4 separate regions of the Homo sapiens genome follow, and regions 1, 2 and 4 are each reported to be linked to region 3. Evidence: microRNA targets listed by miRTarBase, many of them from high-throughput screens and not tested one by one. Region 3 holds a microRNA gene; each other region holds the end of a gene's coding sequence. Distances are between the middles of the regions.
The links. Region 3 holds the annotated microRNA hsa-miR-4753-3p (UUCUCUUUCUUUAGCCUUGUGU, at 1,330-1,351, shown strand). A microRNA usually pairs through its seed, bases 2 to 8, with sites in the 3' UTR of a target mRNA and lowers its output. Matches are read on the target gene's strand: a 7mer-m8 pairs with bases 2 to 8, a 7mer-A1 pairs with bases 2 to 7 and ends in A, and an 8mer does both.

Region 1 (3,136 bases), not on the chromosome of region 3:
TTACCTAAATACTGCATATTAGCTCATGCGGTATTGTGTAATACTGCAAAGACCGTACTTACGTAAATGTTGGTTAAAGTTACCAATTATACAAAGCTCCACTCTCTACCTAAAATTTTACCATGTGCAAAACGAAAAACATTTTAGTTATTGATCATCTCTTCTGAGCCATACACTTTGGGCAAAATTTTGTGATGGCTATAAATATGAAAACACTTAAAAAATCAGAATACAAAGAATGCATATTGCCTCACATGACACATTTTTTTTTTTCCCTCAGAGAAAGACCATCTGTTTAGGATAAATTTCTAGTCTTGTTTATATAGTCAAGTATTTTTTGCTAAAAAAGAAAATGAGAAGACCTGTGCTGTGAAAAATTTTAAAAATCTCAAATTTTTAAATAAAAAATCATTTATAAAATTCAGGATGGATGGCTCTAAAATATAAAAAGAGTGAAATAAAAAAAACAACTGCAGGGAATTTGTTTATTGAGCATTAATGTTAACACTTTTAAATTAAGTATTCACTTACGAATTTTGTCACTGTCCTATCAACGGACATAATAGAAAATATTGCACAGAACTCAAACATGAAAATAATAAACAAAATAACTAAGCAACAAGTATATGCTTTACATTTTAAAAATTAATCCAAACAAAATAATTTGAAGCACTTCTCTGATTTGGAAGTCTTAAAATGTTATCTCATGTTTTATTTGAGATTTTTTTTCGTTTTTTCTTTTTTACAAATTGACACTGTACAAAGAGCTTAAATGGCCAGTAAAACTACTGCCTTAAAATTGTTGGCTTTAAGTAACAGAGGTAAAATTTGAATTCACATCAGAGCTTTCTAAAATGGCAATAGTACAAGCAAATGACTTTCTCTAGTATCCAAAACCTGCGCTGGCTCTCCCTTGGCTAGAAACAAGACAGCCTTCTAAAGCTGCCATAATGTCCTAAAATGCTCTGAAAGAAGTTGGTATACTTCATTCCCCAGCTTACCTTGGTAACACTGGACTAAACAGAAAATGAAGAAAATTCAGTCAATAGTAACTTAAACAGTACTAAGTTAGCTCTGGACTTAGAAGGTTTGGTAAAGTTGATGACATTCAGAATAAGGTTCTCAGAAGAAAAGCAGTTTTCCAAAAATAGGCTAAAAAGCCTATATTAAAGAAAAAATGCCAAGAGTGAATTGAATACTTAAGTTTATCTGTTCCTAGAAGACTATGAACACCACAATGGGAGCTGAAACACTATATATAATTTAGAATGCATTCTCCCAGAGCAAGTTTATAAGGTTTATAGAATAGTAATGGCCTTTCTAAATTTTCACTTGATATTTAAAATTTTATAAGTGATTTATTATGTCATCAAATTAAGCCAATTCCATTAACTATATCCAAGTAGGAATAACTTCAGAAATGCTTTGAAAAAGGACAATGACAGACCTATAGACATGAAAAGCAAACAGCCTTTGCAAAGCTCATCTCCAAATCTATCAATTCTCAATTCTTCTTAAAATAAAAGACTAACCACATGTTCAGCCATTCCATCTTATTCAAGTTTAGCATTACGACAGAAATCTCAAAGGGCTGCATGTTGCTAAACACTGTCAGTATTTCCTATATGCACCATTTAGACTATACCTCACTTTTTTTTACTTCCCTTATAATATTAAAATAATGAATAAATATGGTCCTTTAGTTAAGGTCCTCCACCTTAAGTGAAATACAAAATAAGGTAGTTTTATTAATTTCTTACTAGAATTGGCTTAAAATCTATTTACCAAATAAGAAATAGTAAACTTTTAAGTTTTACCCAGAAAGCAGAAGTATTCCGATCCACTCCTAATGTCTACATAAAATAGTTCATCATTTTAGTTCAGTTTATGACATTTTTTGGACTAGTATTAATGCTGTACCTCAGAAAAAAATCCAATCAACCAACTGCAGAAAGTATGCTTAATTGTTAACCTTTTGAAAGAGGCAAAAAAATTATTTACGAAAACCTAAAATAATCTGATTAACAATTGATGCTGAAAAGGTCATTAAAAACTGAGGAATAACAAATGTAGTTTTCCTGTATTTCACCTATTATTAATGGAAAACAGAATGGCAAAATTTCTAAATGGAATATGTTAAAAGTACAAGAACCGAAAACACTGGTAACATTTCCTTTGCCTTCTGACAGCAACATTTTCTAGGATAAAAACAGTGACATGTAGTTTTAGAGAATCTGAAATTTCTACATTCAAGAATGGAATTAAAATTCAATGTGAGGGGAAAAAAGCAAAATATAGCTAGTGGTATCCAAACTTTAAATAAAACCTCAAAGGTAAGTATGGCTGCTGTTTTGTTCCAGTCATTGTTTCACAAAATGTTGGCTGTGTCATAAGGTATCTCCTGTGCTTTCTATCAACCGAGGGCTGCTGAAGTATAAGACATTCCTCTGTAAAGGAACTGACACTGAATTCCTTTGTAAATTCAATCTCAGCTGAAGTGTCGAGCAAGGCGGGCAGATCTATAATCAGCACGAAGTTGTACGAAGGAGTGAAGTATATTCTTGTCCAGATTAGCAAGTTGTTCTCCTGAGCAGACTTGCTTTAAATTATCTGGGGCAACTACCAGAAGATTGCAAAGAGCATGCAGAGTATCAAAAAGATGTAATACCATTGGAATCTGAATTGAGAGAAGAAAAAAAGTAACATTGAAACAAAACAATTTCCAGTTTTACAATTAGCTTGTAACTTTTTACATACTGTCAGGTGGGACTTACTAGTGTGGGTGAAGTTCAACATATTAGAATTTTTTAAAGATCACAATGCATTAAAACTTAAAGATTTCAGTAGTTAAATAAACTTGCTATAATATTTCAAAAAGATTCATGTGTCAATTCTCTTCAATAGTAACAATCATATATACTTCAGAGGACTAAAACTAGTTATTAACATACAGCATTTTTCATAATTTAAATGTTACAGAAATATTCAGGGGGACATAAATGAAGACAACATTTTTTTCCTAATGTGTGACATATATAACATTAGTCATGGATGTCAATAAGTCAAAGACTGTGGAACTGAAAATACACCATAAAGCAAAAATGGGTTTAATATTAAATATATGGGCCAGATGTGG
Region 2 (3,138 bases), 210 Mb from region 3:
TTAATAGATGAGATCTGGAACCAGCTAGTTTGGTTCTGAACTCTGGATTCACCGCTTACTTGCTGAGTGACTAGTGACCTTGGGCAACTTGTATAACCTTTCTGTGCTTCAATTTCCTTATCTGTGAAAGGGAATTGTAATGGCACCTACCTCGTAAGATTGTTGTGAGGATTCAACGAGATAATGTATTCAAAAGATATACAGCACTACACAGGAAAGAGTAAGTACTCAAGCTATTATTGTGTCTCTAGGAACCGGAGTTTATTGAAGGAGGAAGACCCTGCTGTGCTTATCTCTGAGGTCCTAAGGAGGAAGTTTGCTCTAAAGGAAGAAGATATCAGTAGAAAAGGAAATTGACAACCCTCAGCTCTGCAAACTCAGTCTCATGCTCCTGGAATACCTTCAATAGCTGCCTTCCTCACCGCAGATGTTTCTGCCTCTTAAGGATAGATCTTCTGCAACAGTCTTGCTGACAAGCTAGAGCTTGGACTGAAAGAGAAGAGCTGGATTATATATTTCCCAGACTTCAAACCCTAGCAGAAGCTAAGGCTTGTGATTTGACCTGAGACATTTGTTTCAGGTAATCGTGTAGAATGAAGTATCTTAGTTTAAAGGGTAAGAGAGAAGTTGTTTCTGGTTTTTCCTTGCCCCTGTGTGAAAATAGGTCCTAAATGACTGACTTCACTGCATTAGACCCTATAGCTGGTCTCACAAGACACTTTGTGCCCAGCTGTCACTCACTCAGCAGCTTCCTTGCAGCAGAGCAGGGCTGAGGGGAAGGGGCTATGAATGTTTGTATACATGTTCACAGGGCACGGAAAATCTTATGCTGCTCCGTCATAAACCTACACCAATGCCCAGCAATCACCCTCCTCACTTCCTTGTCTAGATGTAGAGGTCAGGCTGCTGAACCAGCCAACACATGGGCTACTGCTGGGAAGCCTGGGCTGTTTTTTTTCTTAAACACATTTTATATTACTGAACAACCAAATCTACCCTCCACGGCCCTGAGGCCTTATCAGTTCCACTGATTAAAAACTTTCTCTTCCACGGACTTTAAGCCCGGTAGGAAAGAGAGAGGAGGAGGGGGAAAGAGCAAACCATCTTTCTTCCAGGCCCTTGACTGCTCCTTTGGGCTGGGCCAAGGTTTGTATGTACCACACCATGCATGACTCAGATGCCCTCAGGTCCCTTTCTCTATGGTATGTATACTGCTTGTGTTTGGGTTGAAGCACTACCTGACATTAAAGGAAGGACTTGGAGAGAGAATGCATTTGCTGTGTCCATCTCTTGAGTTGCGATTACCCAGTATCCTTCAGGGGCATAGGATTATTGTTAATTTTAAGGTGTATGAACTTAAACAGGCTACTGGCTTCTCCTCTTTCCTTATAAGGTCCTGCCCTTCTAGGGGGTTTCTTCCCCCTTTCTGTAGAGATTTTGCCCTATACTCTTTTTCTTTTTTTTAGAAACAGTATCTAGCTCTGTCATGCCGGAGTGCAGTGGTGGGATCATTAGCTAACTGCAGCCTCCAAACTCCTGGGCTCAAGTGAGCCTCCCACCTTAGCCTCCTGAGTAGCTGGGACTACAGGTATGCACCACCACACCCAGGAAATTTTTAAATTTTTTTGTAGCGATGGGGTCTTGCTATGTTGCCCAGGCTGGTCTTAAACTCCTGGTCTCAAGCAAACCTCCCACCTCAGCCTCCCAGAGCGTTGAGATTACAGACATGAGCCACCGCACTAAGCCCCATACATTCTTAAAAGCAGGTCTTCCAGGAAAATGACTGGAGAGATGACATACACGATAAAAGTAGAATTTAACATTTAAATTAGGCCAGGCACAGTGGCTCACACCTCTAATCACAGCACTTTGGGAGTTCAAGATCAGCCTGGGCAACAAAGCAAGACCTCATCTCTACAAAATATTTTAAAAATAATTAGCTGGGCATGGTGGCATGTGCCTATAGTTCAGCTACTCGGGAGGCTGAGGTGGGAGAATCACTTGCGCCCAGGAGGTCCAGGCTGCAGTGAACCGTGTTCATGCCACCACACTCCAGCCTGGGCAAGAGAGCGAGACCGTGTCTCAAAAAAATAAAATTTAAGTTAAAAAAAAAAAAAGAAGCAGTTCTCTTATAACCTTGCAAGTTTGTCCCTTAGAGGTTGTTTAAGCCTCTTAGATACCACATCAACAACAAGGAATAATGCCTTGGGTAGAAGACAGGTCAAACTAGACTCTGGTTCAGATCAGGCTCAGGGCAATGACAGCATATACTATTACAGTGTTGCCTTTTCAAAAATAAAATTGGTAATGGTTTAATTACCAATTATCACAAGAGCCACTTTGTAAACATTTATTTGGATTCATAGTTTTACAAAGGGGATTCCCTCCTATCTTGTGGGAAAAGGGTAACAGAGTCACATCCAGATTGTTGTACAGCTCAGGCTTTTTAAGGGAGATATTTAAACATAGAGTATATAACTTTAAAGTGCTGTACAGTTACCACAAAAATAAAATAGGAAACTAGCACCATTCTACCTCTCTTCTCTCCACACCTGGGTTGTGGGGAGATTTGCTAATCACTGAAAAAAAAGGGTCAAGAGTAATCATCCCAAGCTTAGGCTGATGTGGGTTAAGATCAGCCAGAGATTAAAAGCTCACACATCTGGCTGGGCGCGGTGGCTTATGCCTGTAATCTCAGCACTTTGGGAGGCTGAGGTGGGCGGATCAGGAGGTCAGGAGATGGAGACCATCCTGGCTAATATGGTGAAACCTCGTCTCTACTAAAAATCCAAAAAAAATTAGCTGGGCGTGGTGGCGCATGCCTGTAGTCCCTGCTATTCGGGAGGCTGAGGCAGGAGAATCGCTTGAATCCGGGAGACAGAGGGTGCAGTGAGCTGAGGTCGCACCACTGCACTCCAGCCTGGCAACAGAGCGAGACTCCATCTCAAAAAAAAAAAAAAAAAAACACATCCATAAGCAAGGTCCCAGTCAGACATCTGGAAGGGCAAAGAGATGGCTCTGTGCAGGCTGAGTAAAAGGCACTTTCATAGAGATAAATACCCACTGTGCTGCCTCAGTGTTCATCATAGACTCATTCAGGGAATTTACCAGCCACCACCTTCCTGAGGGAAAGCCATG
Region 3 (3,138 bases):
TGTAATCCCAGCTACTTGGGAGGCTGAGGCAGGAGAATCGCTTGAACCCAGGAGGCAGAGGTTGCAGTGAGTCAAGATCACACCATTGCACTCTAGCCTGGGTAGCAACAGCGAAACTCCATCTTAAAAAAAATAAAATAAAAAGAATATGTGACACATTCGCAGTGGATGTTATGTGGGAGTGTGCTCAGTCGTAGTAGCAGACTACTCTATATATATTCTCATTCTAGGCTTATGGTGATTTACCCCTATTTTTCACAAGTAGGTCAGAATGTTTCTGCTGGATAAAATGATGTCATTAGCTGATCTAGGTAGTGGCACATAAGACATGGAAGGGAGAGCTGGAATTTCATTGACACATAGTTGAAACAAGATAAATACAGATTTTAAAATCCAGTCTGGGTCACTCAGGCATTCAAAGACTACAGAGAGGCGGTAGCAGGTAGCTTAATGATAATAGCCTGCAGTATGACTTTCTTTGGAAATAACACTGCTGTAGTCTGGACTGGTTTCCCTCTATATCTGTTGCACAGCTATTTTCCTAGGGAGATCCCATTCTAGGGATCTCCTTTAATGTAGTTCTTGGATTTCTTTGTTTTTGGCATCTCAGGTTCCTCCCCACCCCCATACTTTCATTTTGGTGGAGCACATTCTCTAGTAGCTTCTAAAGAACAAGTGCATGAGATGGAATTTTTAGAGATTGGCTGCATTTAAATATCTGTATTTATTTTTGCAAATATCTTTATTCTATTCATAGTTTGGCTGGATTGGAAGTTTTTCCTTCAGTATTTTATTGGCAGTGTTGAATTGTTTTTTTGCTTCCAGTATTGCTTTTGTGAAGTCCAGAGCTCTTCCAATTCCTGATTCTTTGTATGTGACTTGTTTTATTCTTTATTTTTTGCTTTTCTGTCTCTGGAATCTTTTTTTTTTCTTTTCTTTTTTTGAGATGGAATCTCACTCTGTTGGCCAAGCTGGAGTGCAGTGGCACAATTTTGGCTTACTGCAGCCTCTGCCTCCTGGGTTCAAGTGTTTCTCCTGCCTCAGCCTCCCGAGTAGGTGGGATTGCAGGGGCCTGCCACCACGCCTGGCTAGTTTTTCTATTTTTAGTAGAGATGGGGTTTTGCCATTTTGGCCAGGCTGGTCTCGAACTGCTGACCTCAAGTGATCCACTCACCTCAGCCTCCCAAAGTGCTGGGATTACTGGCATGAGCCACCATGCCCTGCTAGGAATCTTGAATCTTTGTTTTTCGTATCCAGAAATTTAACTCTGAAATATATCTACACAAGGCCAAAGGAAGAGAACAGATATATCCACAGTACACTTGGCTGTTCTCTTTCTTTAGCCTTGTGTAGATATATTTTCATCCCCTGTGATGCCTACTTGCTAGACTCTTTCATTCTAGCAACTTCTGTCTTTCTGTTCTAGGCAGTTTTTTTGAATGATTTTCTTGATGATTTCCTCTCCTGCATTTTACTGTTCTCTCCTTTTTAATTTTTGTTCATTGTTACTATTTTTGAGATGAGGTGTTACTATATTGCCCAGGCTGGTCTCAAACTTCTGAGCTCAAGCGATTTTCCTGTCTCAGCCTCCCAAAGTGCTAGGATTACAGGCATGAGCTACTGTCCCAGCCCTGCCAAATTTTTTTTTTTCTTTAATTGAGACTGTGTTTCACTATGTTCAGCCCAGGCTGTTCTCACACTTCTGGGCTCAAGCAGTCCTCCTGCCTCAGCCTCCCAAGTAGTTGGGTAGCTGGGGTATAGGTGCATGACACTGCACTTGGCTGTTATCTTTCTTTGGCCAGCCATTATTTGATATTATACCTTCTGTAATATACTCTAATATGCTCACCTTTTAATTTCTTGCTTTTTATTAATTTTTTTGTCTTTTTATTTCTTTGAAATTTTATCTGCTTTGTCTTTTAATCCTTTTGTTGACTTTTTGCTGTAATGTTTAAGTTTTCAATGATTTTTTTTTTTTTTTTTTTTTTTTTGAGACTGAGTCTCACTCTGTTGCCTAGGCTGGAGTGCAGTGGCATGATCTCGGCTCACTGCAATCTCTGCCCTCCAAGTTCAAGCGATTCTCCTGCCTCAGCCTCCCGAGTAGCTGGTATTACAGGCGCCTGCCACCGCACCCAGCTAATTTTTTGTATTTTTAGTAGAGATGGGGTTTCACCATCTTGGCCAGGCTGGTCTTGAACTCCTGACCTTGTGATCCACCTGCCTCAGCCTCCCACAGTGCTGGGATTATAGGCGTGAGCCACTGCGCCCAGCCTTTCAATGAATATTTTTAAATTAAACTAGTTTAATTTTTCAAGAGCTCTGTTTTCTGTGTGTTTTGTACCACTCTGTTCTTATAGATGGATGCAATACCTTACCTTTCGGATTTTGATCTTTCAAAGGATTTTATAATTTTTGGTTTTTTCAGTTACCTCTAATTTGCTTTTTTCTGTGTTGTTGTTTTGAGCTCTTCCCTATTAAGAATTTTTTTTCCTGGCTGTCTTATGATTATGAAGGAAAGACTAAACTGATTTGGAAATTGCAAGCATATGGTTGGCACTTGTTGACCTTGAGTTTCACTATCGGGTGATCTGGTTGGCCATGTCCTAGGGAATTCATAATATGAAGTCTTTAGGTCTTTTTCTCTTAGACTAGTTGGCTTCCAGAGAAAAGAGTTCCAATCTCTTGACTGGAGGGTGGTAAGAGAATGGTTTCCAGTGTTCTAGGATCTAGTTGAAGAACAGAGAGTGGGGTGGAGGATTCTTAGTGGTTAGATATGTTCATGAATCCCCCTAATTTCAGCATCGCATCTGTACCTGTGCCTTCAACAGTTGTTAGCATCTCCCAGGCTAGGAGCCCTCTCCTACTGTCTTCAGAGAATAAAGCTCTAGAAGGGCAGTCACCTTCCAACCTGAAGTGAGGTGGGGATCTAGGCATCTAAGTAATTTTTAGTCTTCACCCAGTGCTCCTTGTATGAGGCTCCCCACTGCCCTTTTTAATTTTCATAGGCACTAGGGCAGTCAGTAATTATTGAGGTTTCTATGGTAAACTGGGTTGGTTTTTGGCTTTCCTCACTGCTGGTATGAGGTTTAGCCTTCTTTGGTGCCCGTCATTCATTTATCTGCTTTCTGACTTGCAAAT
Region 4 (3,138 bases), not on the chromosome of region 3:
TCAATGTCCCATAGCACCACTGCCTCTGATCAAAGGCTCTTGGCCAGCATTACACCCTCACCTTCAGGCCAATCCATCATCCGAACCCAACCTGGAGCAGGGGTCCACCCAAAGGCTGATGGTGCTCTGAAGGGAGAAGCTGAGCAATCTGCAGGGCACCCTAGTGAGCACCTCTTCATCTGTGAGGAATGTGGGCGCTGCAAGTGCGTCCCCTGCACAGCAGCTCGCCCTCTCCCCTCCTGCTGGCTGTGCAACCAGCGCTGCCTTTGCTCTGCTGAGAGCCTCCTCGATTATGGCACTTGTCTCTGCTGTGTCAAGGGCCTCTTCTACCACTGCTCCACTGATGATGAAGACAACTGTGCTGATGAGCCCTGCTCTTGTGGGCCTAGTTCTTGCTTTGTCCGCTGGGCAGCCATGAGCCTCATCTCCCTCTTCCTACCCTGCCTGTGCTGCTACCTGCCTACCCGTGGATGCCTCCATCTGTGCCAACAGGGCTATGATAGCCTCCGGCGACCAGGCTGCCGCTGCAAGAGGCACACCAACACTGTGTGCAGAAAGATCTCTTCTGGTAGTGCACCCTTCCCCAAGGCCCAGGAAAAGTCTGTATGACCTTCCAACAAGGTGGATCCAGAGCTTTTCTCCTTCGAGTCCCCAACAGCAAAGCATAGGCCTCATCTTTGGAGAGGGGGAGGAGTGATAAACTAGCCAAAGTTAGGGCCTCTCTTTTGTTCCTGCAGTGTCAGGGGAATGACCAAGTACATCCTGGTGCAGGATGCCTTGTTCTTTCTCACAGTATCTATCCCACTCCTCTTCAGTCTTTACACCCTGCCAGCTCAGCCTTTATGGTTGTCATGGCAAATTCAGGTGATATATGGGTATGAGGTTTGAACACTGAGGACTGACAGGGCCAGCAACGTGGAGGTTTAGGGGCTCCCCAATGTAATACCTCTCGATGCAGGCTCTGATCGTCACTCTGTTTTCTGCTGTGCCTTTGGAAGCTTTCTTCTAAGATGGTTTTCACAGGTACATGTGGAACAGCGTTCAACCTTCCAGGGAATACGACCCCTTCTCCCTGTTACTGCCCTTCTCTTCTTTATTCCTCTCTCCTCTTTCATTATTCTGTTCTGTATTCCTTTCCCCTTCATTCTCACCCTGTCTGCTTTTACTTTTTCTCTTTCTTCCTCCCTTTCTCCTTCTCCCCTCCTTCTTTTTCAGACTGATCCTTTCTCTGCCTGTATTTCTATCTCATTTGATCTATATTTGTCTCTCTCTACCTGTCCCTTTTTCTCTAACATGTCCAAAAGTGCTGTTTTTCCATAGATGTTTCCTTAGATGCCAAACTTTGCTATGCTATACTATTTACTAATTTTTATTAAGGGAAATGGATTACTGTAATGAACTGATCACTAGCAATAGTGTGTATCCCGATGTGTGTGTGTGCTCACAACCACTCTCACCTGTTCGTGAGCGCATGAGGCGAAGTTATCTTATATTTCCAGGTTTAACTAGTTGGAGTTTTTCTCCCTTTCTCAATAATCAACTTATAGTGCTGACAGATTCCACTAGCATGCTGAGTAGGATAGTAAATCAGGATGCTCATAACTTTGTATGTCTGACCCAAGTGCCAAAGGCAGACGTGCTTTATAGCTAAATGAACAAAGCAAAGGATACAGAGGTATGTTCTCTCTTAGAAGCTAACTTCCCTGAGACTGCATGGCTCAGGCGTTAATAATGGACATAAAAAGTCATAAAACGTTAGAGCTGGAAGGAATCTTAACTATTAATCTAGTTCAATGCCCTTATTTTACAGATGGGAAAACTGAGGCCTGGAGGTAGGAAGGGACTTGCCCCCAAGGCCGCACACTGAGTTAACAGCAGAATTGAGACTGGAATATAGGCCTTCTGACTCCTAGTTCAGTATTCTTACCCCTGTACCACATTGAGTCATGGGACTTTTTCCTAGGGCTCTATTAACAGTGACAGAAAGCCATTCCCATTCAATTACTTTTCAGGAACCATGCCTAGTTAGTGTGGTGGTCTTTCTCCAGTGCATGGTGGGTAGCTAATTAACTATCAGGTGTTGAGGCTGCCCCCAGTGGACATCACCTTTGGCTCTGTCACCTTGTAGAAGCTCAAGTGTGGAAAAGAAAAGCTTAAAGAAGCCCTAACCAAGCTGTATCTTCGCCATTGCATCTACTCTTTGCTGCACACACTGTGCTTGCTCCTGGCTTTGTCTGCAATGGCAGCTGCCTGAGAACTTAAATTTCAGCAACAGTGAAAAACTGAGATGAAAGATGTATAATGTAGAGAACTGACTTCTCTCTTAAAAAGTACAGAGAGCCTGTGCTGTGAACCCCCTTCAATGGGAAAAAGCTGCAGTGGTGATGGCAGGCTCCTAAAGACTGCTGCTAAAAGACACAAGAATTATACAGTTTCCCTCTATAAGTGAATCCAAAATTCACTGACGAATTCAGAGATTGAGGGCACTTGCTTGAAATCAAGGTGCTCCAACTTAGTTTAAGACCTCCAGACTCTAACTTTATAGATCATCTCTTCTAGAGTGTGCATGGATGTGTGTTGCAGGGTGGAGAAGTGGGGAGAAGTGTATAGTAGTACACGGGGGGAAGAGGGGACCTCCATGTCCCTTTGTTGGATACATATTACAGAAATATGTGCCACTCACTTTTTGTTGGTTCTGAATCTTCCTGAAGTGTACTGACATTTGGGCTGCACAGAGCCCCACACCTTCACTTACACCTCCTCTTCTAGAATTGCTTTGCTCTATTTTTGTATATATAAATATGTTATGATGATTATTAATAATGTTAATGATATTGCTGCAAATGGTGCCATATATAAGGTTAGGCTTCTTGGAACATTTATAAACCCAAACCAATACCTGTAACCTCTTATGTTGCTTTCAGATCCTTCAATTTTAAGTAACTTTTTAATCTTACAAGTCTGCTTGATTGTACTTTACACTTATCTACCCTGAAAAGCTCTGCCCAGTTCTCTGGGTCAAGCTGGATGGTGATGAGTAGCAACACACACTTCTCTGCTTCTGCCTGAAATGTGCTTAGAGCTCAGTTATCTAAGGATTCTCTGACACTAGTGCATTGTTCCTGGAGCTAAATTATT

Region 1: miRTarBase lists EXOC5 as a target of hsa-miR-4753-3p. The part of its 3' UTR that is shown has no 7-base or 8-base seed match.
Region 2: miRTarBase lists MTFR1L as a target of hsa-miR-4753-3p. Seed matches in the 3' UTR shown: 8mer at 493-500 and 7mer-m8 at 1,071-1,077.
Region 4: miRTarBase lists SPRY3 as a target of hsa-miR-4753-3p. The part of its 3' UTR that is shown has no 7-base or 8-base seed match.

What each region holds. Positions count from the first base shown.
Region 1 is chr14:57,206,121-57,209,256 of GRCh38, forward strand. EXOC5 (exocyst complex component 5) reads right to left here. Exons shown (of 18, transcript NM_006544.4): 18 at 1-2,677. The coding sequence ends at 2,489. Among named protein-coding and RNA genes, the nearest start is that of EXOC5, 61 kb to the right of the region's middle.
Region 2 is chr1:25,831,670-25,834,807 of GRCh38, forward strand. MTFR1L (mitochondrial fission regulator 1 like) reads left to right here. Exons shown (of 7, transcript NM_001099625.2): 7 at 252-1,269. The coding sequence ends at 357. It overlaps AUNIP (aurora kinase A and ninein interacting protein), which reads right to left. Exons shown (of 3, transcript NM_024037.3): 3 at 2,337-3,138. Among named protein-coding and RNA genes, the nearest start is that of MTFR1L, 13 kb to the left of the region's middle.
Region 3 is chr1:235,188,253-235,191,390 of GRCh38, reverse strand. MIR4753 (microRNA 4753) reads left to right here and starts at 1,275; the gene lies at 1,275-1,357. All of the region lies in intron 19 of ARID4B (AT-rich interaction domain 4B), which reads left to right.
Region 4 is chrY:56,960,650-56,963,787 of GRCh38, forward strand. It overlaps SPRY3 (sprouty RTK signaling antagonist 3), which reads left to right. Exons shown (of 3, transcript NM_001394354.1-2): 3 at 1-3,138. The coding sequence ends at 609. Among named protein-coding and RNA genes, the nearest start is that of SPRY3, 39 kb to the left of the region's middle.